Linked DNA regions of Homo sapiens: region 2 is linked to region 1. Evidence: fine-mapped expression QTL. A gene starts in region 1. The other region holds a variant in brackets. All regions are shown on one strand. Distances are between the middles of the regions. Region 1 holds the start of TMEM45B (transmembrane protein 45B). Region 2 overlaps TMEM45B (transmembrane protein 45B).

What was found. PIP is the estimated chance that this variant, and not a neighbour inherited with it, causes the effect. A credible set is the group of variants that fine-mapping cannot tell apart.
Region 2: its variant is the best candidate, but not a certain one, in a credible set for the expression of TMEM45B in whole blood (INTERVAL, PIP 0.77).

The regions. Positions count from the first base shown.
Region 1 is chr11:129,814,628-129,817,535 of GRCh38, reverse strand. TMEM45B (transmembrane protein 45B) reads right to left here and starts at 1,688. Exons shown (of 6, transcript NM_138788.5): 1 at 1,638-1,688. It overlaps LOC124902793 (a long non-coding RNA gene), which reads left to right and starts at 2,849. Exons shown (of 2, transcript XR_007062952.1): 1 at 2,849-2,908.
Region 2 is chr11:129,849,631-129,852,538 of GRCh38, reverse strand. It overlaps TMEM45B (transmembrane protein 45B), which reads right to left. Exons shown (of 6, transcript NM_138788.5): 2 at 1-64. The coding sequence starts at 56. Among named protein-coding and RNA genes, the nearest start is that of TMEM45B, 35 kb to the right of the region's middle. The variant T/C (reference allele first, on the strand shown) is at 1,554.

The sequences.
Region 1 (2,908 bases):
TCAGAACAAATAATGCACAGCCAGAGGTCATGCCTCACCTTCTGCTTATCTCAGTCACCTCCACTTGTAAAATCAGTGGGCCATATTCAATAAAACCTTCATATCAGTTCCATATCTTTTCCCAGAAACCCCAGGAACAGAGGGAGCCAATATCCTTATTAAACCAAGAAGCTCACTGTCACAAAGAGCTAAGTCTGACGCCCCTGGGCCCCTACCTAACCACGTGTCCTGATTCTTTCCATAACTTCCCACTGCACAACATCCAGGTTATACTGAAGATATTACACATCTGGTTAAAAACAGTACACGTCTCTCATGAACAATAAGCCATCCTTTCTATTAAAATGAGTGTAAAATTGCAGGTAAAATGCTGTAGGCAGGCCTGTTTGGAAGGCTATGCGACCCTAGGAGACAAAAAGGTGCAGGAGGAGGAAAAGGGCAGACACCGCAGAAAGCGGTCGAAGAGAACGTGAAAGAAGTGGCCATTTCTAGCTGGGCGCGGTGGTTCACGCCTGTAATCCCAGCACTTTGGGAGGCTGAGGCGGGTGGATCATGAGGTCAGGAGATCGAGACCATCCTGGCTAACACGGTGAAACCCCGTCTCTACCAAAAAAAAAAAAAATACAAAAAATTAGCCGGGCGTGGTGGCGGGCGCCAGTAGTCCTAGCTACTCGGGAGGCTGAGGCAGGAGAATGGTGTGAACCCGGGAGGTGGAGCTTGCAGTGATCCGAGATTGCGCCACTGCACTCCAGCCTGGGCGACAGAGCGAGACTCCGTCTCAAAAAAAAAAAAAAAAAAAAAAAGAAGTGGCCATTTCTGCAACTTTTAGGAGAGCTACCTGCCCTCAAATTTTGAAAGGGTTTCTATTTCTTAAAGTGCTACGTTTCCCTGGCTGAAACTCACATCTTTCTTCCCTCTAGGGCTGGATCAAAGCTTCAGAGGTTGTTTCTCTGGCCCTAGACAGGGCCACCCCCGCAAATTTCTCCCCCACTGCGCCTGACATCCGCTTCCATCCATGGCTCCATTAACGGAAGCTAAGCACTGGCTCGGGGGACTTTATCCACCGCCCGGTGTTATTAGATTCCAGGCTTCCTGGCCTCAGGAAAGGATCTGGCTCGTGTATTTGTGTATCGCAGCTAACAAGGAAAGGCAGTCGGTACCAGTGCCCAGAGCTATGTGAGCTGTGACTGGTCACAGCCCAGGAGCCAGATGGCATCCCCGGGGGCGCGCGTCCCCGGACTCACCGGGCAGACGGAGGCCCGGGGCTTCACACCTTCCCCTCACCGGGCAACGCGGCAGACCTGACTCGCGGGGGACTGAGCAATATTCGTTCCAGGGCCGCGGCCAGCCGGACAGAGGCACTCGGGGGCGGTGGGAGTAGTGTGCGCACCGGTTCCGCAGCCCGGAGGGGGCCCCAGCTGGGCTTCCGCGACACCAGGGCCCTCCATCCCCTCCCGTCCTCCCCTAGCGCAGCCTTCACCCCTGTCCCAGAGCCCCTCCCTGTCCGCGTCCCCTCCCCCGCAGGTCCCCTGCGAGTCGGAACCTCCTCTCCATCACAGCCCCGCTCCTTGGCGGGGCCCCCTCTCCCTTCGAGCCCTCCTCCAGGTTCGAGCCCCCTGCGGGTACGGACGTCTGACCTGTGCCCAGCGCCTCGCAGCCGTCTGCAGCCCGCGCCGCGCGCCAAGTGCGTCCGCCCAGAAGCAGGTGCAGCTCCAGGCCCGCCCCGCCCCGCTGCGCCCCGCCCCGCTCCACTCCGCCAGGCCTGGCAGCCGCCAGCCCCTTTCCACCCTTGACCGCCCTTCCCGGTCCCGGCCAGCGTGCGGGGCATCTGTCGTCAGGTCCGCACTTCCTCCAGGCCTTTGACTTTCCCGTGGAGATGTCTCTGGCCTCAGGAACTCCCTAAGCTGTGTGCTTCAGGAGAGGCTGGTTCCTGAGTCACCCAAGAGGACTGCAACCAACCTGGACCTCCTGAGATGCAAAGAGATCGCAGGGCCTGGGAGGCGGCGAGGACCCTGAGAACAGGCTGTGGCTCCGAAGAGTGTTTGTTACCAAGCCAGGCAACCACTGCGAACACACCGCAGAAACAGCCACGGATCACCGTCCAGCAAAGGAAGAAGGTGCCAACGGTCCATCAGGGACCACAACCCAGTTTTTTTAGTTTAAGTTTGGTGGCTAAGTTTGAGTGTCACATAGTTCATTCATTCCTTCATTCATTCAACAAATCTGCCATGTTCCCATCTGATAACAGATCTGACAGGTGGGCACTGTTCTAGGTGCTGGCGATAGAGCTAAGAAGGAAACAAAGTTCCTGTCCCGGAGAAGGGGGCTACCTGCTGAGGAGAGCATGACTTTCTTTGTGGTATTGTGCTGTGGCAGCAGGGTCCTCTTCTGTAAGCTACTGAGAGGTGAAACCCGCTGGGCTTCTGGGTCGGATGGGGACTTGGAGAACTTTTCTGTCTAGCTAAAGGATTGTAAAAGCATCAATCTGCACTCTGTGTCTAGCTAAAGGTTTGTAAACACACCAATCAGCACTCTGTAAAAATGCACCAATCAGTGCTCTGTGTCCAGCTAATTGGTGGGGACTTGGAGAACTTTTCTCTCTAGCCAAAGGATTGTAAATGCACCAATCAATGCTCTATGTCTAGCTAAAGGTTTGTAAACACATCAATCAGCACTCTGTAAAAACGGACCAATCAGCACTCTGTAAAATGGACCAATCAGCACTCTGTAAAATGGACCAATCAGCGCTCTGTAAAATGGACCAATCAGGAGGATGTGGGCAGGACCAATCAGGAGGATGTGGGCGGGGCCAATGAGGGAATAAAAGCTGGCCATCCGAGCCAGCGGCAGCTGCGTTTGGGTCCCCTTCGATGGTGTTGGGGTTTTGTTGTTTCGCTCTTTGCAATAA
Region 2 (2,908 bases), 35 kb before region 1:
AGCCCAATGATCAGGAAGAAACTCCCTGGAAGCGCGTGGCCCTTGAAATTTGCCATCAGGACACCTAAAAAATTAGGGGAAGGCTGTTAGGTGGCTAATGAAGCAAGCAAACAAATGTATATTTTGGCAGGAAACACAATACGTGCCTGAGATTGCAAATCATAAGCCACGTTAAGAAGGATCAACACATTCTCATAAAACAAGCCTTATGTTACGTCACTGAAGTCTCATCTGTAAAGTGAGTTGCATAACCAACTGGACTCCACTGTCTGTAATGCTTTAAACATGTGGGTAAAATAAAAGGATGAGGGTGGGGAAAGAGGAGGATAGGTAATATTTATTGATCTCAGATAGAGAAAACTTCCAAGCCATAAACATAAAGGGGGGAACTAGAAAAGAAAAACGTTCAGCTATATAAGCATCTTTTAATATCAAGAACATCAAAAGGTAAACAACAAATCAGAAACATGCTTGTAGCAGTTGGCTATTACATTAGAGTCTTTACAAATTGATAAGAAAAAGACCGTAGAAGAATAGGCAGAAGACATGAACGGATGATTCACAAAATAATACAAACAAATTATAAATCTCCCGGAAATTAGAGATGGGCAAACGAAAGCACAACATCATTTTTCACCCAACTGGAAAATAATTTTATAAAGTTTTGGTGTGGTGGTCTAGTACAAATGAACCTGGTCAATATGATTCACAGTTTGTAAAAATCAGCATAACGATGTAAACATCACCTTATTCCAAAAATTTTCAGGCATGATTTGCTGTTATCCCATTTGCAGTAGCATGAAACTATAGCTAGGATTTATTCAGAAGTAGATTGATTATTTTCCCCACTGGCCTGGGTGGTTACCTAAAGAATATGTAGGGTGGGAGAAAAATACCAGTTGTTGGTGATTGCTGTGGTTTGAATGTGTCCCCTCCAAAATCCAGGTGTTGCCAAGGTGATAGCATTAAGAGAAGGGGACTTTTTTTTTTTTTTTGAGGCAGAGTTTCACTCTGTCACCCAGGCTGGAGTGCAGTGGCACGATCTTGGCTCACTACAACCTCTGCCTCCCAGGTTCAAGCGATTCTCCTGCCTCAGCCTCCCGAGTAGCTGGAATTACAGGCACCCGCCACCACGCCTGGCTAATTTTTATATTTTTAGTAGAGACGGGGTTTCACCATGTTGGCCAGGCTTTTCTCGAACTCCTGACCTTAGGTGATCTGCCCACCTCGGCCTCCCAAAGTGCTGGGATTACAGGTGTGAGCCACCACACCCGGCCGAGAAGAGGACTTTTAAGAAGGGACTAGGCCATGAGGGCCCCTCCCTCCTGAACTAGGAGCAGATGCCCTCCCTCATACAGGGGTTGGCTGGAGGGAGCTGGTCCCCTGTTTGTCCTCCTGCATGTGAGGATGCAGCCCTCAGCAGACACCAGATGCTGCTGCCTTGATCTTGGACTTCCCAGCTTTCAGAACAGTGAGAAATAAATTGTTGTTCTTTATAAATTACCCAGTCTGCGTATTGTGTGATATCAGCACAACAGGGACTAAGACAGAAA[T/C]TGGTACCAGAGGAGTTTATAACATTTATAACCAGGGGTTATAACAAATATGTAAAAATGTGGGGGTGGCTTTGGAACTGGATAATGAATACAAGCTGGAACAGCTTTGAAGTGAGTGCTGAAAAAAGCCTGGATTGCCATGAACGGAGCACTAAGGATGATTCTGGTGAGGGCTCAGAAGAAGAGGAGAGCTGTAGATGTGGGATATGAGCTGTGGGGAAAGCCTCGTTCTTAGAGATTGCCTAAGTGGTCATGAACAGAATGTTGATAGAGATACCGATGGTGAAGGCAATTCTGATGAGGTCTCAGACAGAAATAAAGAACAAGGTATTGGAAACTAGAAGAAAGGTTATCCTTGTTAGAAAGTGGTAAAGAACTTACCTGAATTATGTCGTTTCCTAGGACTTCATGGAGGGCAGAACTTAAGAATGATGACCTAGGATATTTGGCAGAAGAGATAGAAAGCAAAGTGTTCAGGATGCTGTGTGGCTTCTCTTAACTGCTTATAGAAAAACATGAGAGGCCAGGTGCGGTGGCTCACGCCTGTAATCCCAGCACTTTGGGAGGGCGAGGCAGGCAGATCACCTGAGGTCAGGAGTTCGAGATAAGCCTGACAAACATGGTGAAACCCTGTCTCTACTAAACATAAAAAAATTAGCCGGGCGCGGTGGCAGGAGCCTGTAGTCCCAGCTACTCGGGAGACTGAGGCAGGAGAATCGCTTGAACCCGGGAGAGGGAGGTTGCAGTGAGCCGAGATCGCGCCATTGCACTCCAGCCTGGGTGACAAAAGCAAAACTCCATCTCAAAAACAACAACAACATCAACAAAAAAAAAAACGTGAGAAAAGAGAAATAATTTGAAGGCAGAATTTACCATCAAAAGGAAAGCTAAAGGTCAATATCTGAAAAATTCTCAGCCTAGCCATGAAAAAGAGAAAAACGTGTGTGTAGGAGAGAAAACCACGGGTATGGCCACAGGACTGATAAGCAGGTTAGTATGTGTAGAAGGAAGCCAGGTGCTAGTTATCAAGAGAACGGGAAAATGACCCCAAAGTCATTTCGGAAAATGACTCCAAAGCCATTTCGGAGAATGACCCCAAAGGCATTTGGGGCTGCCTTGCTCATTAGAGGCCCAGAGGGTTAGAGCCTTGCGGCAGAACAGTTTCAGGGGAAGGGCCCAGGCGCCTGCGGGGTCTCAGAGATCACTGCCTAGGGCCACCTCAGGTCTCTGCTCCCCACATTTCCAGCAGAGCATTCCTCCGTCACCCTAGCTGTGGCTCAAGCAGGACCAGGTGCAGGTTGGGCCACTGCTCCAGAGGGCGCAAGTTATAAATCTTGGTGGCATCCATGTGGTGC